Homo sapiens: one gene and its partners. The protein of the gene in region 1 interacts with the protein of each later gene in a pairwise test. Each region holds a gene or a part of one and is shown in the gene's direction. Other genes may lie near its edges. The genes, in order: NOD2, PPP1R12C, NDUFA13, TRIM22, IKBIP, RIPK2 and ANKHD1-EIF4EBP3.

Region 1 (3,500 bases):
ACCCCAAGAGGCCAGGCATCACTGGCCTGTGTGATCCTCATAGGCCAGTCCATCTCTGGAATTCTTGAATGGATCATCCATCCTTGATTAGGGATGTCCCCGTGATTACCAGGGTGTGCAGAAGGGCTCTGGGAAACCTGTGGGTCTGTCTCTGTGTTCAGAGAAAGGTGAGGGTGGCCTGGTTCTAGCTCATGGTGCTCAGACTGTGGTGTGTAAAGGCACTCGTGGCAATGCAGATTCCTGGGCCTGCCTCTAGTGATTCCCATTCAGTAGGTTTGGGGTGGGGCCCAGGAAATCTATATTTTTCACAGACACCCCTGGTGATTCTGATACAAGTGGTCTCGCCCTGGGAGAACTACTGGTCTGCAGCAACCAGCTTGGTTTTCCATTAGCAATTACTGTCCTTGAGCGAGTTTTACTGCTCTTCACCTTACACACACTAAAACTGCCAAGGCCGTAGGGGAGGGGAAGCAACCATGAGGTTGCTGTGAGTGCACTGTGTGTGTGTGTGTGTGTGTGTGTGTGTGTGTGTGTGTGTATGAGAGAGAGAGAGAGATTGAGAAAGAGAGGAAGGGAGGAAGGGGGAGGGCACAGGCTCCTCTCCCACAGTGCCAACCTGCCTCTCTCCCACTTGAAGTGTTTCCATGCCAACTGAAATCCTCAGCCTCTAGGAAACCCTATATACACAGTGCCCCTATATAGGTTTCTTTAGACTCTGGCTCTCTCAGACTCTAGAGTGATGGCTTTAAAAGTTTTTTGAATGTTACCCACAATGATTGAGAAAGAGAGAGAGAGAGCACGCACCACCATGTAAACATGGAACCTAAGTTTCACAAAATGACTTCGCTTTATGAACTCTGAGACACTCTGCTCTCTTCTGTTCTGTTCTATTTCCATTTTAGAAATGCTGCTCAGGACCTTCAAAATGATTTGCATGACCTGCAACCTGCAGTCTGAAAAATCACTGCACTACAGAAGTGGCCATAAGAGGCCCTGAGGGAGAAGCTGCACAATGTCATGGTTAAGAGTGGGGTTTGGAGCCAAGCCGCCTAGGCTCAAAGCCTTTATGTGCCGTACAACCTTGGCAAAGTCACTTCGCTTGTCTGTGCCTCAGTTTCTTTCTCACGAATGCTCATAATAATGGTTCCCATTTCACTGGCTTGTTGTGAGGATGAAATAGTGTTATTATTGAGAAGTGGTAAGGGTAGTGATCAGTGCTAGCGATCATGATTCTAGGTGACTTTTACTGTGTACCGGGTGCTCACAAGGCTTTATGTGCACAGCCTGGTGAGGCTGATAATACTATTGTTCCCTCTTTTTTTTTTTTTGAGACGGAGTCTCGTTCTGTTGCCCAGGCAGGGGGTACAGTGGCACAATCTCGGCTCATGCAAGCTCTGCCTCCCGGGTTCACGCCATTCTCCTGCCTCAGCCTCCCAAGTAGCTGGGACTACAGGCGCCTGCCACCACGCCCGGCTAATTTTTTTGTATTTTTGGTAGCGACAGGGTTTCACTGTGTTAACCAGGATGGTCTCGATCTCCTGACCTCGTGATCCGCCCGCCTCGGCCTCCCAAAGTGCTGGGATTACAGGCGTGAGCCACCGTGCCCGGCCTGTTCCCTCTTTTATAGATGAAGAGACCAGCAAATAACTAGTAAGTCGCTGATCAGGATCACAATATCCAGCTGAGGCACTCCAGAGCCTGAGCTGTTAACCATTCAGTCAGGGCCTCCCAAGTTTGCCTAAAGATAAAGAATCATGTGCACAGTTGTTAAAATATACAGATTCCTGGGCCCCACCCCGCAGATACTTGATTGCCAGCTCCAGGGTATGGGCCTGAGAATCTGTCTTTTAGGGAAGCTTTCAGATGATGTTGTGATCAGGTGAGTTTTGGGAATGGTGCCCCAAGAGGAGTGGCAGACAGGGCTTGCTCGGCAGGGACTAGCCTGTTGGAGTGGTGCCATTGGGGTTAAGGACTGGGCAGCAGGGCCTCACTAACCACAGCCTATATGCCTGTTTCTGAAGTTTTGGCCACTCTCATCCAGCTGGTCTACTGTCTGCTGACCTAGATGATGGTAAATTGTCCCCAGGGGTAGCCTGTCTAGTTCAGGCTGCACCTTTCGCATATATCAGCTCCTTTCCACCATCATCCCCTTTGTGAGGCTGCTGTGATTATCATGTTCCTTTTGCAGAGATGGAAACATTGCCTCAAATTAGCTCTGTCATTTCCTAAGGATTCCAGGGTTCTTTAGTAGGGGGTCTGGATCCTACGTCCTGGGCCATCCCCATCATAGTGCACCACGTCACCTCCCTGGCCAGGGACCGTGGGGTCTCCACTTTTTTGGGGTGCTCCATCTATGCAGGGTTTCCTGGAAGCACAGATGCTGGCACTTCAGGGATGAATGAAAGTCTTTTTGGGGGATTTGTAGATTTTTTTCTTGTCTTACTAGCTCCATTTTCAAATGTATTTATTTTGTCTCTTTAGTTTGCGCGATAACAATATCTCAGACCGAGGCATCTGCAAGCTCATTGAATGTGCTCTTCACTGCGAGCAATTGCAGAAGTTAGCGTAAGTCAGCCTGGGCTGTGGACAATGGGCTCCAAGTGCCCTGGTCTCACCCCAGGTCGTGCAGCCTGGGAAGCTGTGAGTGATGGGCTGGGGCAGGGGCTGTTTGCATGATGGGGGGTGCAGGTGATTCCTGCCCAGAGGGGAAGGGCAACCCTGGGATTTGGTGCTCACTGTCCAATGTGCTTTGCTTCTGTGTCTCCTCTCTTCTGGAACTGAACAGTCTATTCAACAACAAATTGACTGACGGCTGTGCACACTCCATGGCTAAGCTCCTTGCATGCAGGCAGAACTTCTTGGCATTGAGGTGAGCCCAGGTTTTCCTTATTCCCTGGAAACTATTTTTTGCCCCATTCCTGAGTCAGTCTGATCTGGTCTTGGCCTGGCACTGCCCACACTGGCTCCTGACCTCCTGATTGAATGCAGGGACAGTGTCTCATTTTAAGCAGGGGTTCTCTAATGCTGTGATCTCCCCAGTAAACTCTGGACTAGCTCTGCTGAGGACTTCCTGTCTTTTGACCTTTAGCCCGTAGGGCAAGAAAGCTTTTCTAGGCCCCTTTCCTTTTCTGTGTCTAAGAGTGTCACAGCTTTCTGGGTTTACTGAGTTCCACGATGCATGTTGAGCTCGTCCTGGTGGGGGAGGCATACACAGTTACTTGCCACCCCAGCTGTGGCAGCGAGTTGCTGCAACACTCCCAGGAGGTCCTTTCACCACTCAGAGCATGCAAGGTTTGCAGTCCATCTGGTTCTGCATTTCTGCTACTCCAGTGTCTCCCAGTTTCAACAGGAGTCTCTCTCTCTCCTACCTGATGCCTTTAAATTGCCCCTCTAGCTGGCCGCTGGGTTGGCCTGGCTTCTCTCTCCTTCTCTCTCTCTCAGATATTCTTGCCTCCTGTGATTTGTGAGGCAGTAAAAAAAGACAAAGTAAAGAATTGCTT
Region 2 (3,500 bases), on another chromosome or scaffold:
GTCAGGTCTGGGTGTGGGGTGACCAGCTTATGCTGTTTGCCCAGGACAGCCTAGTTTTAGCACTGAAACCCTCAGTCCTAGGAAAACAGGGATGGTTGGTCACTGTCTCTGGGTGACTCTTGATTCCCGGCCAGTTTCTCCACCTGGGGCTGTGTTTCTCGTCCTGCATCCTTCTCCAGGCAGGTCCCCAAGCATCGCCCCCCTGCTGTGGCTGTTCCCAAGTTCTTAGGGTACCCCACGTGGGTTTATCAACCACTTGGTGAGGCTGGTACCCTGCCCCCATTCCTGCACCCCAATTGCCTTAGTGGCTAGGGGGTTGGGGGCTAGAGTAGGAGGGGCTGGAGCCAGGATTCTTAGGGCTGAACAGAGAAGAGCTGGGGGCCTGGGCTCCTGGGTTTGAGAGAGGAGGGGCTGGGGCCTGGACTCCTGGGTCCGAGGGAGGAGGGGCTGGGGCCTGGACTCCTGGGTCTGAGGGTGGAGGGACTGGGGGCCTGGACTCCTGGGTCCGAGGGAGGAGGGGCTGGGGCCTGGACTCGTGGGTCTGAGGGAGGAGGGGCTGGGGGCCTGGACTTCTGGGTCTTAGGGAGGCGGGGCTGGGCCTGGACCCCTGGGTCTGAATGGGGAGAGGCTGGGGGCCTGGACTCCTTCATCTGAGGGCGGAAGGGCTGGGGCCTGGCCTCCTGGGTTGAATGGGGAGGGGTTGGGCCTGGACTCTGGAGTCCCTGGTGCCCAGGCCTCAGGCATCTTTCACAGGGATGCCTGTACTGGGCAGGTCCTTGAAAGGGAAAGGCCCATTGCTCTCCTTGCCCCCCTCCCCTATCGCCATGACAACTGGGTGGAAATAAACGAGCCGAGTTCATCCCGTTCCCAGGGCACGTGCGGCCCCTTCACAGCCCGAGTTTCCATGACCTCATGCTCTTGGCCCTCGTAGCTCCCTCCCGCCTCCTCCAGATGGGCAGCTTTGGAGAGGTGAGGGACTTGGGGGGTAATTTATCCCGTGGATCTAGGAGTTTAGCTTCACTCCTTCCTCAGCTCCAGTTCAGGTCCCGGAGCCCACCCAGTGTCCACAAGGCCTGGGGCAAGTCCCTCCTCCGACCCCCTGGACTTCGGCTTTTGTCCCCCCAAGTTTTGGACCCCTAAGGGAAGAATGAGAAACGGTGGCCCGTGTCAGCCCCTGGCTGCAGGGCCCCGTGCAGAGGGGGCCTCAGTGAACTGGAGTGTGACAGCCTGGGGCCCAGGCACACAGGTGTGCAGCTGTCTCACCCCTCTGGGAGTCCCGCCCAGGCCCCTGAGTCTGTCCCAGCACAGGGTGGCCTTCCTCCACCCTGCATAGCCCTGGGCCCACGGCTTCGTTCCTGCAGAGTATCTGCTGGGGTGGTTTCCGAGCTTGACCCTTGGAAGGACCTGGCTGGGTTTAAGGCAGGAGGGGCTGGGGGCCAGGACTCCTGGCTCTGAAGGAGGAGGGGCTGGAACCTCTTCCCTAGTCTGAGCACTGGAAGCGCCACCTGTGGGTGGTGACGGGGGTTTTGCCGTGTCTAACAGGTACCATGTGGGGTTCCCGCACCCAGATGAGAAGCCCCCTCCCTTCCCCGTTCACTTCCTGTTTGCAGATAGCCAGGAGTCCTTTCGTGGTTTCCACTGAGCACTGAAGGCCTGGCCGGCCTGACCACTGGGCAACCAGGCGTATCTTAAACAGCCAGTGGCCAGAGGCTGTTGGGTCATTTTCCCCACTGTCCTAGCACCGTGTCCCTGGATCTGTTTTCGTGGCTCCCTCTGGAGTCCCGACTTGCTGGGACACCGTGGCTGGGGTAGGTGCGGCTGACGGCTGTTTCCCACCCCCAGGCCTGCATTGATGAGAACCTGGAGGTGGTGCGCTTCTTGGTGGAGCAGGGCGCCACTGTGAACCAGGCAGACAACGAGGGCTGGACGCCACTGCACGTGGCCGCCTCCTGTGGCTACCTAGATATCGCCAGGTGAGGCAAGGGAGGGCCGGGCAGGACCTGGTCGGGGTGGGGGCCTGGACCCTCAGCCCTGACCAGCCCCCACCCCCAGGTACCTCCTGAGCCACGGGGCCAACATCGCCGCCGTCAACAGTGACGGGGACCTGCCCCTGGACCTGGCCGAGTCGGACGCCATGGAGGGGCTGCTGAAGGCGGAGATCGCCCGCCGAGGTGGGCTCTGGTGTGCTGTGTGTGGGGTGGGGGACACCTCCTCACCCGTGGTCTCCAGGCTGAGAGCTTTAGAGGCGGCCTGGGCACCGAGGCTGACCCTGCTTCCTAGGATTGTCTTTCTTTGTGCCTCAGTTTCCTCACCTGTGAAATGGGGGTGTAGGGGCCTGCCTCCAGGATTGCTTGGAGCCCAGCACACGCACAGGATGAGAACTCAAACCCCTACCAACTGGGACTGTCAATCCCCCTGAGTAACTGAGGGGATTGGAATGCCGGGGCGGGGTGGGTGGGTGGAGGGACTCACCCAGGAGTGCGTTAGGTAGGATTGCTGGAACCCTGCCGCAGGTCTTTCTGGGAGGGGATGCGTTTACTTGGGGGGGAGTAGGGGCATGCAGGGGTTGCCAGGGACTGGTCTCCCTGTCCTCTGAGACTCATCGTACCCCAGGAGCCTTCATATGGGGTCCAGGAGCCCCTGAAACTGTGTCTGGCCAGGTTCATTTTTCTAGGGAAGGGGTGTTGCTTCTAGCAGGTGTGTGATGGCCACACAGGATCCCTGGGTCCCCAGCATGTCTTCTAAAGTCCTGGGCTTGCCTCCCAGCTCTGCCTGTGACTGGTGACTCCAGGCACGTCCCTGAAGCTTGCTTCCCTGATTTCCTAAAACAGGACCACTGGTGCCGCTTCATGGGGTGGTTGTCAGGGTCTGGCTGGGTTGGAGTGGAAGGGTGTGAGCATGGTTCCCGGCAGACTCCAGGGGACCGTGTGGAAGGAAAGGGAGACTGACGAGGAAATGAGATACCGGCAGCCTCCGAGACTTCTGACGCGGCTGTCCTGACGGGGCCGCTGGCCAGGCTGAAAGGATAGGATTCCGCGTGGGTTCAGGGGTCCACGAGAGCCATGCGGGAGGACTAGCTAGTGGGACACGTGACGGCGGAGATCTGAGGTTCGGGAGCCCCTCTTTGGTTGAAATGGGGAGTGGGTCAAATCAGCCCTGGACCTGGATTCTGTCTCCTTCCTCCTCCAACTTTTTATTTTGGGAAAGCTTCAGATTTACAGAAAAGTTGAAGCAATAGCATGTGACTACCCATATGACTTTCACTAAGATTCGCCAGTGCTTTTTCTTTTTTGTTTTTGTTTTTTAGACAGCTTTTTGAGATGTAATTCACCTACCCTACAATTCACCCAAAGTGCACACTTCAGTGCTTTTTAGTCTATTCACGGGGTCGGGCATTTATGACCACATTGGTTGTAGAACATTTTCATCATCCCCCAACGAAACCCTGCAACCGCTTAGCCATCACCCCCAACCATGCACCCCCCCCTCCCCCCCACCCC
Region 3 (3,500 bases), on another chromosome or scaffold:
GCCTTGGCCTCCCAAAGTGCTAGAATTACAGGCGTGAGCCACTGCGCCCGGCAGGTCTTTGATCCTTTTGAGTTAATTTTTGTGGATGGTATAAAGAAGGAACGCATCCTCATTCTTTAGCATGTGGCTGTCTGGTTATCCCATTTGTTGAAAAGACTGTTTTCTCTCCCATTGAATTATCTTGGCACCTTTGTCCAAAATCAATTGACCATAAATGTGAGGGTTTATTTCTGGACTCTCAGTTCTGTTCCATTGATGAACATCTCTGTCCTATGCCAGTGCCACACTGTCTTGTACACACAGCTGTGGGATAAGTTTTGAAATACTGAAGTGTGAGTCTTTCAACTTTGTTCTTTTTCAAAATTGTTTTGGCTGTTCTGGTCCCTTGCATTTCCATATGAATTTCCCAACCTGCTTGTCAGTTTCTGCAACAGGAAAAGAAATGGTTGGGATTCTGATGGGGATTGCGTTTCAAATCTGTATCAGTTTGCACAGCGTTGCCATCTGCACAATGCTAAGTGCTCCAATTCTTGAACACAGGATGGGTTTTTATTTATTTTGGTCTTCTCTTAAGAATGGCCAAGGCCGGGCTCAGTGGCTCATACTGGTAGTCCCAACACTCTGGGAGGCTGAGGTGGGAGGATTGCTTGAGGCCAGGAGTTCAAGACCAGCCTGGGCAACATAGCAAGACCCTGTTTCTATGAAAAATATATTTTTCTTTTTTTTTTGTTTTTGTTTTTGGTTTTGTTTTCTGAAACAAAGTTTTCTCTGTCACCTAGGCTGGAGTACAGTGGTGCCATCTCAGCCCACTGCAACCTTGACTTCTTGGGCTTAAGTGATACTCCCACTTCAGCCACCCAAGTAGGTGGGACCACAGATACGTGCCACCACATCTAGCTAATTTAAAAATATGTATTTTGGGCCGGGCATGGTGGCTCATGCCTGTAATCCTAGCACTTTGGGAGGCCGAGGAAGATGGATTTACCTGAGGTTGGGAGTTCCAGACCAGCCTGGCCAACATGGTGAAACCTCGTCTCTACTAAAAAATACAAAAATTTAGCTGGGCACAGTGGCGTGCACCTGTAATTCCAGCTATTCAGGAAGCTGAGGCAGGAAAATCACTTGAACCTGGGAGGCGGAGGTTGCAGTGGGCTGAGATCGCACCACTGCACTTTAGCCTGGGCTACAGAGCGAGACTTTGTCTCAAAAAATAAAATAAAATACGTATTTTGTAAATGTTTCACTGTGTTGCACAGGCTAGTTGCAAACTCCTAGTCAAGTGATCCTCTCACCTCAGCCTCCCAAAATGCTGGGATTACAAGCGTGAGCCGAAAAAATTTGATCCCACCACTGCACTCCAGCCTGGACAACAGAGAGAGGCCCGGTCTCCAAAACCAAAAACAAAAAGAATGGTCCACACACCCTTTTGTGCGTGCCCCTCACCATGTTCCCCACCAGACTAGCAGTTCCTAAGGCACAGACTCTGAGGCCTGGGGCCTTGGCCCCCCTGTGGTTGGCGAGGAGGAAGAGCCCTGTGCAGGCTGCATGCAAATACAAGAGGCCCTGCATTGTTTCTGTCATCTCATACATCTCTGTTCTATGCCAGTGCCACGCTGTCTTGTACACACAGCTGTGGGATAAGTTTTGGAATTTATTTCTTCTTTGGAATTTATCTTACAGATGGGCCTGCGTATGAGTGCGCAGGTGTGAGGGTGCAGGTTCTCCCCAAGGGCCCATTTTCTGCACCAGAAGGCTGAGGGCAGCCCAGGTCTGTCCCCTGGGTTCTCTGTAGCCGTGGAAAATAATGAGATATGGCCGGGCACGGTGGCTCACGCCTGTAATGCCAGCACTTGCAGGTGGATCATGAGGTCAGGAGGTCGTAACCAGCCTGGCCAATATGGTGAAACCCTGTCTCTACTAAAAATACAAAAATTAGCCTGGCGTGGTGGTGGGCGCCTGTAGTCCCAACTACTCCGGAGGCTGAGGTGGAAGAATCGCTTGAACCCAGGAGGCAGAGGTTGCAGTGAGCCAAGATCTTGCCACTGCACCCCAGCCAGGGCAACAGAGTGAGATTCCGTCTCAAAAATAAATTAATTAAAAAAAAGAAAAGAACGAGATATGACCAGCCTGGGCAATATAGCAAGACCCCATCTGTACAAAAATTAGTTAACTGGACATGGCACACACCTGGGGTCCCAGTTACTCGGGAGGCTAAAGTGGAAGGATCACTTGAACCCAGGAGTTGGAGGCTGCATTGAGCCATGATTGCGCCCCTGCACTCCAGCCTGGGTAGCAGAGTGAGACCTTGTCTCAAAACCAAAAACCAAAAAAGGAAAAAAAAATGAACAAGGCAGCTGATGAAACCTCCCATGTGCTAGACAGGAGGCTGAGAGCTGGGAGCTGGCCCTGAGCACCCTGGGCCTCTCCAGAGATGTGCCTCTGAGCCCGGACCCAGCACACCCTCATTACCTGTAGTATGGAAATGTCTTAGCCCTGACTTGGGCTTCTAACAGGTTAAATAACCAGGTACAAATTTGAGCCAGTTTCTCATTTATCTCCGGGTCTAGCAGAGGTGCCCCCGTGAGCTCCATGCTGGAGCAGAGCTGAAGGCAGAAGAGCATGACAGGTGCAGAGCAGGGCCCGGCAGGCACAGAGTAGCCCCAGCAGGCATAGAGCAGGGCCAGTGCCCTGGAGGCCTGGAGATGGCCTTGCCTTCCACCTGCTGGTCATTTCCTGGGTGTTGACTGGAGCCTGGCCTACCTGAGCTTTTCATTCATCCCACCAAGTGCAAAGCCTGTCCAGAGAAGAGACTGGGGCTGGAAGGATCTGGAGGGTGCAGGGTGAGCCTGGGAGCCAGATCCCAGACAGCCCAGGCCTCTCTGAAGATCCCAGTGGGCCCCCAGCCTGTCAGTCAGGATTAGAGCAAGGCCCCACTGGTGCTCAGTAAATATTCATGATGGCCTAGGTCCTTCCTGGGGTGCAGGGCAGGGGGCTTCACCCTGCAGAGCCAAGAGGTAGCACGGCCACCCCTAGAGTCCGGGGGGTGGCTGGGCAGCCCCCACAGGGCACTGCCTGTCCCTGGCAGCTGTGTGCAGCCCCCGCAGGGCAGCACGCGGAACTGTGGCCCAGGTGGCCGGGAGCCACCATGGACACTGTCAGAACTGCCCTTCCACTTCAGGGCCAGCCTGCCGCCCAGGGTCCAAACAGCCTTCTAGAACACGATGGACCTGGGGCCCCCCTAGCAACCACCATCTAGACCCTCAGGCCTCCTGAGGTTGCTGCCTGGCTTGTACCTTTCAGAAAACCCCTGGCATGGGGGCAGAGGTGTCACAGTCCAAGCAGCCTCACTCCTGAGAAGCCGCCAGTGTCCCCTGATTGCAGAGTGGGCAGCGCCTGGAGCTGTGGAGGAGGGTGTCTGGGGGCGGGCTGGCCCGCTGAGCAGCGCCTCTCTTCACAGGCTACAGCATGCTGGCCATAGGGATTGGAACCCTGATCTACGG
Region 4 (3,500 bases), on another chromosome or scaffold:
ATGCAGTGCTTGATTTTCAGTTCCCGTGTTAATTTGCTTAGGATTATGGCCTCCAGCTGCATCCATGTTGTTGCAAAGGACATAATTTTATTCTTTTTTTTTCTTTTTTTTTTTGAGATGGAGTCTTGCTCTGTCACCCAGGCTGGAGAGCAGTGGCGCAATCTTGGCTCACTGCAAGCTCTGCTTCCCGGGTTCAGGCCATTCTCCTGCTGCATCCTCCCGAGTAGCTGGGACTACAGGCGCCTGCAACCACGCCCGGCTAATTTTTTGTATTTTTAGTAGAGACGGGGTTTCACCTTGTTAGCCAGGACAGTCTCGATCTCCTGACCTCGTGATCCGCCCACCTCAGCCTCCCAAAGTGCTGGGACTACAGGCATGAGCCACCGCGCCCGGAAATTTTATTTTTTTTATGACTATGTAGTATTCCATGGTGTATATGTACCACATTTTGTTTATCCAGTCTACTATTGATGGATACCTGGGTTGATTCCATGTCTTTGCTACAAGCAAGAAAACAAAGAACCCCATTAAAAATGGGCAAAAGTCATGAACAGACATTTATCCAAAGAAGACATACAGGTGGCCAACAAACATATGAAAAAATGCTCATCATTGCTAATAACCTGAGAAATGCAAATCAAAACCACAACGAGATACCATCTCACAACAGTCAGAATGGCTATTATTATAAAGTCAAAAATTAACAGATGCTAGTGAGGCTACAGAGTAATGGGAACATGTACTCTGTTGGTAGAAATGTAAATTATTTCAGCCATTGTAGAAAGCAGTCTGGAGGTTTCTAAAAGAACTTAAAACAGAGCTACTGTTAGACCCAGCAATCCCCCTGCTGGGTATATACCCAAAGGAAAATAAATCATTCTACCAAACCAAATATAGTTTTACTTCTCTTTCATGCTAGATGTCTTATTTCTTTTTATTTTTACTCTTTTCTTCTTTATCTTTCTTTTTTTTTCTTTATTGCACTTGATAAAACTTCCAATACAATGTTGACCTTAGTGGTGAAACCACACACGCTAGTCTTTTTCTTGATTTTAGGAGGAAGTAATTCAGACTTTCACTATTAATTATGTTATTAGTTGTATACTACTTATACATGTTTCTTATCAGTTTTTAGGATGTTCTCTTTTATTATCAGTTTGTTGAGAGGTTTTATCTGAATGGATGTTGATTTTCTTGTTGAATTTTAGGAGTCATTTATAGATTCTGGATATTAATACCTTATCAGACATATAATTTGTAAATATGCTTTCCCATTCTGTAGATTGCCTTTTCGCTCTCTTCATAGTGTTCTTCATAACTTAAAAGTGATTTTTTTAAAGTTTCATTTTGGTAAAGATCTGTTTATTTATTTTTTTCTCACATTGCCTTTACTTTTTGTATCATAGCCAACAAATCACTACCAAATCCAATGTCATGCAATTTTCCCCTTTTCTTCTAGGAGTTTTATATCTTTAGGTCTTTGATTTATTTTTAGTTATAGTGGTTATATGGTATAAGTTATCTATTTTTAATGTTATTGTAGCCATTGTATTATATTGTGCCCTGTTTCACAAACAGTTTGGTAATAAGGGTGAAGAGGTGGCAGAGAGCTGAGGAATGTGCCATTTTTTGCAAACAGTTTGGTAATAAGGCTGAAGACGTGGCAGACAGCTGAGGAATGGACCATAGAGGACAATATTTGTTTGTCTGTCTAACCTCTATTCCTTTTGATTGTTTCTTTATAATAACTTTTGAGGAACCATCCCTACCCTGCCTCATTCCCTGCAGTTGGTTAAAGTAGACAAAATTAGTAGCATTAGGCATGTATATGTTACTCAGTTCTGGCAAATCATTATATCCAACTCTTATATTTTTACCAACTTTACAGTAATTATTTTAAGATATATACTTGACTCAATTGGAGTCGATGGTTTGCATGCCTTAGAATTTTACTGTCATGAGTAAAAAGAGCCGTTGTCTTTTCTGATGGGTATCATATCAGGGATAATAATTTAAACCAGGAGAGTCAAGCTGATGCCATAATTAATCTGAAAATAAGTCAATATAATAGGTATGAAATATAATTTTTAGAAGAAAAACCAGATTCTGATGGCAAGATTTTAGTTTAAAGATGTAGCTATGAGTAAAATTATACTTGACCCCTTGAATTTGTTTTTTAAAAATTTAAACCAGTTTTAGTTGGTTTTGTCAGATATTACAACAACAAAAAAGCTAATACAGGCAGTGAAACTATTTCTGAGGGTGTGAAGTCAACTGGAGGTCAAGTCTTTGTTGGTATAAAGGGGGTCAGATCAGACAGCGGGAGATCAAATATATTGGTACATACTTGTTCAAAAAAATAAAGGAAATAATGGTTATGGTGAGAAAGAAAAGATAGCTAAAAACAGTTAAAAATGTAAACTAGTCTAGGTTAATAAAATGTTGGAATCCAGGATAAAATTTTATAGTTTCAAAGATGATGACTAAGTGGATATTGACACTATTCGGGACAGTGGGGTGTAAATAGTTGGGAAATAGTAAGTTACATTTAAGACCTACTCAGTTACTTGGTCCTGTGGCTTGTTTCATACTGAAAAATGTATGAGATCACCTACAGTGGAGTTTAGTCAGCATACACAGTGAGTACATGGAGGCCAGACAAACTTTTAGTTGAAATGCTTGCTTGCTTTTGCTCACGGCAACAGTACACTTCTTAAGGACTTTTATTATTAATTTTCATCATTAGATCCCTAAAGCCTGAAAAAATATAGGGCAAACGTATTTCGCTGTTTTGTGTCTGTTGATGTATAAAATAAAAACACAATGAATTAATGAGGTTTTCTCATTAAAAATGTATAAAAATATTAGAGCTCCTCCCTCTTTTTAAAATATATTCCTTCTTGAGATACTTGAAGCATCTTCCTAACACCCTCATCTTAGTCCTCTGCAGTGGTCAGTCTGAATCTTATCTCCACACTTTGTCCCCAGTCTGTGACCATCTATTTATTCCCACCATATCCAGGGATAGTAAGAGTGTGGGGAGGAAGGTGGATAAAACTTTGTAAGATAGGAGGGCCTATTACTTTTTTGAGCATTGCTAGACAAAATACAGGATGCTCAGTTAAAGTTTAATTTCAGATAAAAGAAATGTAATATTTTTAGTATAAGAATATCTTAAATATTATAAGGGTCATATATATAACAAAAAATATATTGTTTATCCCAAATTCTAATTGAACTAGCCACTTTTATGTTCTAAATCTGGCAACCCTATCTTGACTCATGTTTTCTATCTTTTCCCCAGGATGTGATTGACGTCATGAAAAGGTATATGTGGAAGAGAGATGTGGTCTTATTTGTCTGAAAAGAGAATTATAGTCCTGAGAGATATCTTCCTTCAATCAGAACAACTTAAAAAATCAAAAGGCTGGGAAATTTGTGTATTAAATTGTCCCAAATTGCTAGTCACAGATTAAAGTTTTCAATTGTAAGAAATTTTG
Region 5 (3,500 bases), on another chromosome or scaffold:
GCAGTGAGCCTAGATCGCGCCACTGCACTCCAGCCTGGGCGACAGAGTGAGACTCCATCTCAAAAAAAAAAAAAAAAAGGCTAAAGACCACCTTTGGCAACATAGCGAGATGGACAGTCCTAGCTATTTGGGAGGTTGAAGTAAGAGGATCACTTGAGCCCAGGAGTTCAAGGCTGCAGTGAGCTATGATTGTGACACTGCATTCCAGCCTGGGTGACAGAGTGAGACCCTGTGTGAAAAAAAAAAAAAAAAAACCTACAGCTACCCATACCAGAATTTATGTTGTTCTTAACAGAAGTGGGTATAATTCTCCTTTGAAATTCGGATTTAAATGGATATGAATTGGAGAATAGTGATTTTTCTTTTCTTTTCCAGGTTTGTATTTCAGCAGTCAGAAAAATTTGCAAAGGTGGAAAACCAATACCAGTTACTGAAACTAGAAACCAATGAATTCCAACAACTTCAAAGTAAAATCAGTTTAATTTCAGAAAAGGTAATCATTAATTGGCTTATCTGGGACGGTTTTCCCATTTTACTACCCCACTATCATTTCTCTATCCCAGCTCAGAACTTCTTTCTTCCTGCCTTTTAGACCATCACTATTTTAACTCTCACTGATCTTCCTACCTCTTGACATTCTCCCTCTGAGCCATTTTGACTCAGATTGCATTTTGAGGGGCAAGGATTTTTTAATATGATAATTTCTAGTATTGAAAAAGACCAATTTGTTCATATTAGCATGATGTTAATTTTCTACTTAAGTGTCAGGTATCTAGAGCATTGAAAATATGGTTGATCATGTCTACAGCCATACCACCCTGAATGCGCTCGATCTCATCTGAAAATATGGTTGATCTTTGGACATAAAATTAGAATATGAATAGCACTTATTGGGAAAAGATCTATCCATTTTTTCCCTTACTTTTTGCTTTTTAAGGATATATGTACATGCATTTAAGAATGGCTAGCCTAGGCTGGGAGTAGTGGCTCATGCCTTTAATCCCAGCACTGTGGGAGGCTGAGCCAGGCAAATCACTTGAGGTCAGGAGTTAGGAGACCAGCCTGGCCAACATGGTGAAACCCCATCTCTAGTAAAAATACAAAAATTAGCTGGGCGTGGTGCACACGCCTGTAATCCCAGCTACTCGGGGGGCTGAGACAGAAGAATCTCTTGAACCTGGGAGGTGGAGGTTGCAGTGAGCCAAGATCACACCACTGCACTGTAGCCTGGGCTATAGAGCGAGGATCCGTCTCAAAAAAAAAAAAAAAAAAAAAAAAGAATTAAAAAAAAAAGAACGGCTAGCCTAAAAGTAACTATTTGTCCTGTAGCCAAATAAGAATTCCAATGAAAATTAAAATAATACCATGTCTATATTGTGTTCCTTCAAGTTGCTGATTTCTACCAGATGCGTTATTACTGTGATTCTTAGAAATGTGAGACAAATAAACATTTTTGTAACTCCCACACCTCTCAGGAGAAAGTCAAAGTCAGCTGTGATCAATAAGGCATCATGTAGGCCTATTCTGGGTACCAGGGACCAAGCTATCATTGGGAAATATGGCTTTTTGTTCATTTATTCATTCACTAAACCTTTGCTCATGTCACAAGGTAAGCAAGGACCTATGCTTGGCACCAGGGTGGGTAAGGATGTTGTAAAAATAGAGATGAAATGGAGCATCTAAGTCCCTGCAGCCCCATGCACAGGATGAGCATATAATCCTCCAGAAGAGAAAAGCCATGGAGGAAAATTAAGTATCCCTCACAAATGCCAGGGGATTCCATGGATGGTGAGTGTAAGGGATTTGGGGAAGGAGCTGCAAAGGAGTTGGTATTTTCACATAGGGCTCAAATTGGAATCTGAGCCAGGCGTAGTGGCTCATGCCTGTAATCCCAGCACTTTGGGAGGCCAAGGCAGGCGGATCACCTTGAGGTCAGGAGTTCGAGACCAGATTGGCCAACATGGCGAAACCCTGTCTCTACTAAAAATACAAAAATATTAGCTGAGCATGGTGGTTCATGCCTGTAATCCCAGCTACTTGGGAGGCTGATGTATGAGAATTGCTTGAACCTGGGAGGCAGAGGTTTCAGAAGTGAGCTGAGATCATACCACTGCACTCCAGCCTGGGCAACAGAGTGAGACTCTGTCCCAAAAAAAAAAAAAAAAAAATTGGAATCTGGTTGTAGCTGTTGGGGGAACTCTAACATACCATTAGAAGAAATCCCAGGGGCAAGAAACTTCATATATATATATATATATATATATATATATATATATTTTTTTTTTTTTTTTTTTTTTTTTTTTTTCAGATAGAGTCTCTCCCTGTCATCCCAGCTCTCACTCTGTCATCCAGGCTGGAGTGCAGTGTTGGAATAACAGCTCAACCTCCCAGGCTCAAGCACTCCTCCCAACTCAGCCTCCCAAGTAACTGGGACTAACAGGCACGCCACTGCACCCAGCTAATTTTTTTTTCTTTAATTTTTTGGAGAGACGGGGTCTTGCTACATTGCCCAGGCTGGTATCAAACTCCTGGCCTCAAATGACCTTTCTGCCTCTGCCTCCCAAAGAATTGATATTACAAGTGTGAGCCACTGTGCCTTGCCAAAACTTCACATATTTAATTAAAAGCTATTGAAGGCCGGACGCGGTGGCTCACGCCTGTAATCCCAGCACACTGGGAGGCCGAAGCAGGCAGATCACGAGGTCAGGAGTTTGAGATCAGCCTGGCCAACATGGTGAAACCCCATCTCTACTAAAAATACAAAAATTAGCTGGGCGTGGTGGCGGGCGCCTGTAATCCCAGCTACTCGGGAGGCTGAGGCAGGAGAATCACTTGAACCTGGGAGGTGGAGATTGCAGTGAGCTGAGATCACGCCATTGTGCTCCAGCCTGGGCAACAGAGTGAGACTCCATCTCAATAAATAAATAAATATAAATAAAAGCTATTGAAAACTTATTTTGAACAAGATTTCTCCTTTTTTTTTTTCTTTTTTTTTTTGTGGGGGAGGTCAGGGGTGGTACAGAGTTTCACTTTTCTCATCCAGGCTGGAGTACAATGGCTCGATCTTGTCTCACTGCAACCTCCGCCTCCCGGGTTCAAGTGATTCTCCTGCCTCAGCCTCCCGAGTAGCTGGGACTACAGGTGTGTACCACCACACCCGTCTAATTTTTGTATTTTTGGTAGAGACGGGGTTTCACCATGTTGGCCAGGCTGGGCACGGTGGTTCACACCTGTAATCCCAGCACTTTGAGGGGCCGAGGTGGGTGGATCACCTGAGGTCAGGAGTTCAAGACCAGCCTGGCCAACATGATGAAACCCCATCTCTACTAAAAACACAAAAATTAGCTGGGCATGGTAGCGTGTGTCTGTAGTCCCAGCTACTCAGGAGGCTGAGGCAGGAGAATCGCTTAAACCGGGGAGGCAGAGGTCACAGTGAGCCGAGATTGCACCACTGCACTCCAGCCTGGGCAACAAAGTGAGACTCCATCTCAAAAAAAAAG
Region 6 (3,500 bases), on another chromosome or scaffold:
AGTTAAACTGTAGGCAAGATATTTCTACTACCAAAGAAGATAGTGCTGAGAGCAGAAAAAAGGCAGTAGAATAGAGCTCCATGAGACAATTTTTTTCTTGTTCTTTGTTCTTTGTGAAAAATAATATCATTTAATTAAAGGGCATAGCTTATCTGGGTGTCCAAGAATTAAATCATCCACAAAAAGTTAATCTTGCATGTAACGTTAAGCTTGTATTACAGTAATTTCCTAATTTTTTAACTTAAAGTTGATTTTGTTTCCAAACTACATGAGCATTTATCATCTTCATTGTATACAGTAATTCTTTGCTGCCTTATCACTTTGAAAAATGGTATCTTCAGTCAGCTTTTAAAAATAGTGCTATTTTAGTTTATTATGCAGAGTTCATTTAAAATATGTAACATGTATGTTCTTATGTTAAACAGCTATGCAGTTATCACATGGGAAGTGTTATCCAGAAAACAGCCTTTTGAAGGTAAGTATGGTTTGACTTTTTTATGCTCAATAACATCATGTTAGTAGGTCACTCTCAGAACTATCTAAAAATCATGTTATTTTAAATCTGCTTATTCATTTTGTGGAAAACACACTAAAACAACCATTTATCAGTTGTGAATGCATCACATACTGCAAAATATACCGGGTTAAGGATCCAGTTGTGAGTCTACTATATACTGGAAAATGTACTGGATTAAGGATCAGAAAAACCCAGATTTTAATTCTTGTTCTGACAGTAATTAGCTCTGTGATCAAGTCACAAATCTCTTGCGTCCTCATTTTTGTCGCCTGCATAATAAGAATTTTAAATTACTATTTCCAAGTTCTAGTCTAGCTGTAAAATTATTTATATGATAATTTAATTACTACCCCCTCTATAAAGACTAGCAAATATCGAAGACTAATCTGTCCTTTTTATTCCCTGAAAATATTGTTTATTTCTTTATTTTGAGGTTTGTGTAGGTCAGCTTGTTGTGTAACAAAAAACAACCTCGGAATCTCCGTAGCTTATGAAATAAACATTTATTTCTCATTCACATTAAATATTGGTTGCTGTAGCCCTTCTTAGTTCTGCAAGGTTTCGCTCAGCTCTGCTTTACAAATACTCTGTTGACCAAATCCAATCACATGGTCAAGCCCAAAATTAATGAGGTGAGGATATAAACTCATTCCATAGGAATCAGACAAGTCTGGCAATGGTTTGGGGTATATATATTCCTTTTACAGAAAGGGGGGTAAGGCATCATTCCTAAAATTTCAATATTCACTTATTTTCTTTTAGTTAGTTTTAGATGTAAGTAATATGCTTAATCATAATATATTACTAATGAATGCAATCTATTTGTTTTGACAGATGTCACCAATCCTTTGCAGATAATGTATAGTGTGTCACAAGGACATCGACCTGTTATTAATGAAGAAAGTTTGCCATATGATATACCTCACCGAGCACGTATGATCTCTCTAATAGAAAGTGGATGGGCACAAAATCCAGATGAAAGACCATCTTTCTTAAGTGAGTATATAGTTTTAACCTAGACTCTTTGAATTACAGAATTAGTTAATATACTGTGAATAAAATATTCCTTGAAAAATTGTGCAAATTAGATGACTAGCTAGAAGTTGTTTAAATTATTTTCTGTCTTATCATAGCATTTATATATGAGTAACTCCTTCTAGAGCAGAATTGAGAATTCCTAACAAAAAAGAGAAATCGTGTGATAGGAGTAACAATTTCTTTCATATATTTAACAAATATGTCTTAAACCCCTACCATGTGCTATGTATATACTGGAGTGAGCCCTGGGAACAGAGTAGTAAACAAGACAAACTTTCTGTAGCTAGTTCACATTCTAGTTGAGAAGGCAGAGTGAAAACAAATAAATAAGCAAGATACACAAATTGTGACAGTCTTATAAGGAAATAAGCAAGGTAATAGACTAATTAAGGGAGGGAAACAAAGGCCTTTTTTTAGGGGCAAACATTTGAGCTGACATTTGAAGCTTGAAAAAGAGCCAGTCATTCAAATGCTGAAGAAAGAGTATTCAGCCAAACAAAACAGCAAGCATAAAGGCTCTGAGCCTAGAAGAGGAAAAAGTTTTATATTCTCAAGAAACAGTGAGAAGGCCTGTGTGGCTGGAATACAGTGAGCAAGGAAAGGAATTAGATGATATTGGAGAGTTAAGAGAGAGGCTATTGGCCATCATAAAAAGGTTAGATTTTTATTCCAAGTGCAATGGAAAGCCATTAAAGTATCTTTTGCAGGGAAGTGACATGATCTGATAGAAGTTTAGGTGAAATTCTTACTGCTGTGTGGAAAGTTGATTGGAGAAAGACAAAAGTGGAAGCAAAGAGGCTAGAAAAGACACTTTCAGGAATATTCTAATTAAGGTGGAAATTCTGAAGACAGAAGAGTTACAGAATTAAGATAGTATTTCAGAGGTAGAATGGATCAGACATCCAAATGTAAATGTAGGAGAAAATCTTCATGACCTAGGGTTAGGCAGAATCTTTAAATATGACATCAAAAATAAATAGGATTCATTAAAAAATTTATAATCAGACTTTGCAAACATTGGAAACTTTTCCACTTCGAAAGGTACTATTGAGAAAAGAGAAAGCCAGGCATTTAGTGTCCACGACTTTAGTCCCAGGTACTTAGGAGGCTGAGGCAGGAGGATCACTTGAGCCCAGGAGTTTGAGGATGTGTAATAGTGCACTGTGATCGTGCCTATGAATAGCTACTGCACTCCAACCTGGGCAACATAGCAAGACCTCATTTCCAAGAAGGAAAAAAAAAAGCAGAGCCACAGACTGGGAGAAAATATTTGCATAACATGTATCTGCTAAAGGGCTTGATTCTAGAATATATAAAAAACCCTGACAAGTCAATAATAGGACATATAGCCCTATTTTTAAATGAGTAAAAGATTTGAATTTCACCAAGGGAGATATACAAATAGCTAAAAAGCACATAAAATGATGCTTAATATTATTAGTCATTTGGAAATGCAAATTAAAACTGCAATGAGTTACCACTTCATACCCACAAAATAGCTATAATTAAAGACAGAAAATAACAAGTGTTGACAGTGATGTGGCAGAACCAAAATCCGTATACATTGTTGGTGGGAATATAAAATGATGCTGCCACTTTGGAAAACGGTTTGGCAGTTTCTTAAAAATGAAAGATAAATTTACCATACAACCAAGCAATCCACTAACAGGTAAACCAAGAGAAATGAAAACATATGTTCACACAGTTGTATGTGATTAGTGATAGCAGCATTGTTTATAATAGCCAGCAAGTAGAAACGGTCATAATTACTGCTGCTACTACTACAACAATACATGAATCTGTTGTTCCAGGAAGAGTCCAGGATCCTAATATAAAATTGAACATCACTAACATATTGATAGTCTGGACTGGTTCATCTAAGAAGGGAATATACATAGCAAAGAGAGGACCCATAGTAAAGCTCTGAGGCATTCCAGCACTTAGA
Region 7 (3,500 bases), on another chromosome or scaffold:
TATAGGCACACGCTACTGTGCCTGGCAACCATTTGCTTTTTTATAAGTAATAGTCTTAAATTTCTTCACAGGTAGAGCACTAGTTTGCCCCCAAAGTCATAAATTTGTCTCTCTCTCTTTCTGACTGTGCATGTCTGTGTGTGTGTGTGTGTGTGTGTGTGTGTGTGTGTGTGTGTGTGTGTATGTGTAATGGTCTTTGGAGTCTCCATACCATGTAATTAAAGCTATGGGCAGAATCCATGCCTTTTGTATTTTTGAAGCTTATTGTAGAAGTCATGTGTTGGTGATTCCTACACCCACTTAGTGGTGCCTAATGTTAGAAGAGCCCCATATTCTCCTGTTTACTTATGTTTTCTGTGCCTAAAAGGATTTACAGGTTAAGAGTACATGTAGACCTCATTTTTGGAATGGAAGTTTCTAGGATACCCACTTTAGCCTAATCTAAGATGATGCTTAGTGGGTGTATAGATGCTTTCTTAATCTGTGTAAGCAGGAAATTTTTTTTGGGTCCTGTTTCTCCCATATCACATAGAGAGGAAATTCTTGGAGTATCTAGTCTTTATAGTATGTGTGGTAGAGTATAGTCTGTGCCTTTGTGAATAAAATGACCTGTTTTGGCCAAGCAAAAATTTTCCCTTTTCTTTTTCTGTCTGACAAGATGAGCTGTCTTCTTTTATTATTATTGCCTTTGAATTTTCAGTGTGAAAAGGTAACAGTGTTCTTCAAAAAATACTCATGTAATTGGCATTTGATGAATAATACTAAAATCCTCCGTCTCATCTTTCCTAAATATTTTGTTTATTTTTATTTATTTTTTTGAGACAGGGTCTCATTCTGTCACCCAGGCTGGAGTGCAGTGGCACGATCTTGGCTCACTGCAACCTCCGCCTCCTGGGTTCAAGCGATTCTTCTGTCTCACCCTCCTGAGTAGCTGGGATTACAGATATCCACCACCACTCCCAGGTAATTTTTATATTTTTGGTAGAGACAGCGTTTTGTCACGTTGGCCAGGCTGGTCTCAAACTTCTGGCCTCAAGTGATTCTCCCACCTTGGTCTCCCAAAGTGTTGGGATTACAGGTGTGAGCCACCATGCCTGGCCTTCATTTTTCCTAAATATTTATAACCACCGGGCATGGTGGCTCACGCCTGTAATCACAGCACTTTGGGAGGCCAAGGCGGGTGGATCAGCTGAGGTCAGGAGTTAGAGACCAGCCTGGCCAACATGGCAAAATTCTGTCTCTATTAAAACAAAAAATTAGCCGGGCTTGGTGGAGGGCGCCTGTAATCTGAGTTACTCAGGAGGCTGAGGGAGGAGAATCGCTTGAACCCAGGAGGCAGAGGTTGCAGTGAGCCGAGATCACGCCACTGCCCTCCAGGCAGGGTGACAGAGAGAGACTCTGTCTCAAAAAAAAAAAAAAATAAATTATTTTAGAAACAAGTACCTAGACATCCAAAAAGATGATGAATTGGTGTGTAGTTTGGGAGTGAAGTTTGTCTTGTTGCTCTAATGGGGCAGGATTAGGTGAGAAATAAGAAATGTGGAGCCCTAGTATTTTTGCTCTAGAATTAGTTGGTCTTCTACATTTTGTGTACAGAGGAGTAGACCCTCTAAGGACCTCTTTATATTTAATATCAGAGCCAAGAGCTGAGAAAAAACAAGCTACTCTTTCTTGCTGGCCAAGCAAAAGACCTTTTGGTTAGAGGAATGGACTCACATCTTTCAGTACATTTTTTTTTTTTTTTTGAGATGGAGTCTTGTCGCCCAGGCTGGCACGATCTTAGCTCACTGCAACCTCTGCTTCCTGCATTCAAGTGATTCTCCTGCCTCAGTAGTGAGATTACAAGTGCGTGCCACCATGCCTGGCTAATTTTTCTATCTTTAGCAGAAATGGGGGTTTCACCATATTGGCCAGGCTGGTCTCGAACTCCTGACCTCAGGTGATCTGCTCGCCTAGGTCTCCCAAAGTGCTGGGATTACAGCCGTGAGTCACCCACCTGGCCCTTTTGTTATTTTAAACATTGGGGTAAATACCTGCTTCGTATTTCTTCAGGCATTCTTAGCATGTTTCTTAGCTATCGAAGCCCTTGATTAGAAGAGCTAGCACTGCATTGAATCCTATTAAGAAATGTATCCATGTTCAGAATAGAAGTTAGGTTAAAAATTTCTTAAAAACCACTTTAGGCCTGGTGCGGTGGCTAACGCCTGTAATCCCAGCACTTTGGGAGGCCGAGGTGGGTGGGTCACAAGATCAGGAGTTTGAGACCAGCCAGACCAACATGGTGAAACCCCATCTCTACTAAAAAACAAAAATTAGGTGGGCGTGGTGGCACGCACCTGCAATCTCAGCCTACTCAGGAGGCTGAGGCAGGAGAATTGCTTGAACCTGGGAGGCAGAAGTCGCAGTGAGCTGAGATCGCGTCACTGCACTCCAGCCTGGGTGACAGAGTGAGACTCCATCTCCAAAAAAAAAAAAAAAACCACTTTAAAAAATGGTTTTTATTTTAAATTTTTATTTATTTATTTTGAGATTAGGATTACAGGTGTGAGCCACCACACCCAGCCTATTTTTATTTATTTATTTATTTTTAGAGATGGGCTTTTGCTCTGTCACCCAGGCTGGAATGCAGTGGCATGATCATAGTTCACTGCAACCTCGAATTCCTGGGCTCAAGCAATCCTACTGCCTCAGCCTCCCAAAGAGCTAGGTCTAACTAGAGGTGTACTCCACCACTCCACCTGATTTAAAAAAAAAAAAATGTTGCCCAGGCTAGTCTTGAACTCCTGGCCTCAAGGGATCCTTCTGCCTGGGCCTCCAAAAATGCAGAGATTACAAGTTGTAAGCCACTGTGCCTGACCGAAAAACCAATTTTTAAATTTTAATTTTAGAATTGTGGTCTTTTAATTTTTTTAGCAAATCGAAATAAAAATACAGTTTCTAAAGAAAAGATTGTGTGAGACATGGTTTTCAATTTTTGTCGTAAGAATGAATGTGTGTGTATATGTGTGTTTGTGTGTGTATGTGTGTGTGTGACGGCCCTCTTTTAAAATTATTACAAAAGTGGCCGGGCGCGGTGGCTCACGCCTGTAATCCCACCACTTTGGGAGGCCAAAGCGGATGGATCATCTGAGGTCAGGAGTTTGAGACCAGCCTGGCCAACATGGTGAAAGCCTGTCTCTACTAAAAATACAAAAATTAGCTGGGTATGGTGGCAGGCGCCTGTAATCCTAGCCACTTGGGAGGCTGAGGCAGGAGAATCTCTTGAACCCGGGAGACGGAGGCTGCAGTCAGCCAAGATCATACCAGTGCACTCCAGTCTGGGTAACAGAGCAAGACTCCATCTCAAAAAATTAGAAAATAATAAAATTATTACAAAATAGTTACTTGTTGAAAAACTCAACAATATAGATAGTAGGTATAAGGGGAAAAGTAAAAGTGCTTCTTCCCACCCCCATTAATTCTTCAAATTCTACCCTTCAAGGTAACCAATATTAAAATTT

What was found.
Region 2: the proteins of NOD2 (region 1) and PPP1R12C interact in binary tests that used the Homo sapiens proteins (3 or more experiments, as listed by UniProt).
Region 3: the proteins of NOD2 (region 1) and NDUFA13 interact in binary tests that used the Homo sapiens proteins (3 or more experiments, as listed by UniProt).
Region 4: the proteins of NOD2 (region 1) and TRIM22 interact in binary tests that used the Homo sapiens proteins (3 or more experiments, as listed by UniProt).
Region 5: the proteins of NOD2 (region 1) and IKBIP interact in binary tests that used the Homo sapiens proteins (3 or more experiments, as listed by UniProt).
Region 6: the proteins of NOD2 (region 1) and RIPK2 interact in binary tests that used the Homo sapiens proteins (3 or more experiments, as listed by UniProt).
Region 7: the proteins of NOD2 (region 1) and ANKHD1-EIF4EBP3 interact in binary tests that used the Homo sapiens proteins (3 or more experiments, as listed by UniProt).

The regions. Positions count from the first base shown.
Region 1 is NC_000016.10:50,714,106-50,717,605, forward strand, and holds part of NOD2 (nucleotide-binding oligomerization domain-containing protein 2), read left to right. Parts: intron 1-902; coding exon of another isoform or gene 903-903; exon of another isoform or gene 904-1,376; intron 1,377-1,503; exon of another isoform or gene 1,504-1,650; intron 1,651-2,481; coding exon 2,482-2,565; intron 2,566-2,785; coding exon 2,786-2,869; intron 2,870-3,500. UniProt on the Homo sapiens protein: Pattern recognition receptor (PRR) that detects bacterial peptidoglycan fragments and other danger signals and plays an important role in gastrointestinal immunity.
Region 2 is NC_000019.10:55,111,138-55,114,637, reverse strand, and holds part of PPP1R12C (protein phosphatase 1 regulatory subunit 12C), read left to right. Parts: intron 1-1,842; coding exon 1,843-1,973; intron 1,974-2,052; coding exon 2,053-2,171; intron 2,172-3,500. UniProt on the Homo sapiens protein: Regulates myosin phosphatase activity.
Region 3 is NC_000019.10:19,522,725-19,526,224, forward strand, and holds part of NDUFA13 (NADH dehydrogenase [ubiquinone] 1 alpha subcomplex subunit 13), read left to right. Parts: intron 1-3,457; coding exon 3,458-3,500. UniProt on the Homo sapiens protein: Accessory subunit of the mitochondrial membrane respiratory chain NADH dehydrogenase (Complex I), that is believed not to be involved in catalysis. Complex I functions in the transfer of electrons from NADH to the respiratory chain.
Region 4 is NC_000011.10:5,703,290-5,706,789, forward strand, and holds part of TRIM22 (E3 ubiquitin-protein ligase TRIM22), read left to right. Parts: intron 1-3,304; coding exon 3,305-3,327; intron 3,328-3,500. UniProt on the Homo sapiens protein: Interferon-induced E3 ubiquitin ligase that plays important roles in innate and adaptive immunity.
Region 5 is NC_000012.12:98,631,289-98,634,788, reverse strand, and holds part of IKBIP (inhibitor of nuclear factor kappa-B kinase-interacting protein), read left to right. Parts: intron 1-375; coding exon 376-493; intron 494-3,500. UniProt on the Homo sapiens protein: Target of p53/TP53 with pro-apoptotic function.
Region 6 is NC_000008.11:89,771,316-89,774,815, forward strand, and holds part of RIPK2 (receptor-interacting serine/threonine-protein kinase 2), read left to right. Parts: intron 1-425; coding exon 426-475; intron 476-1,351; coding exon 1,352-1,513; intron 1,514-3,500.
Region 7 is NC_000005.10:140,404,833-140,408,332, forward strand, and holds part of ANKHD1-EIF4EBP3 (ANKHD1-EIF4EBP3 protein), read left to right. Parts: intron 1-3,500. UniProt on the Homo sapiens protein: May play a role as a scaffolding protein that may be associated with the abnormal phenotype of leukemia cells. Isoform 2 may possess an antiapoptotic effect and protect cells during normal cell survival through its regulation of caspases.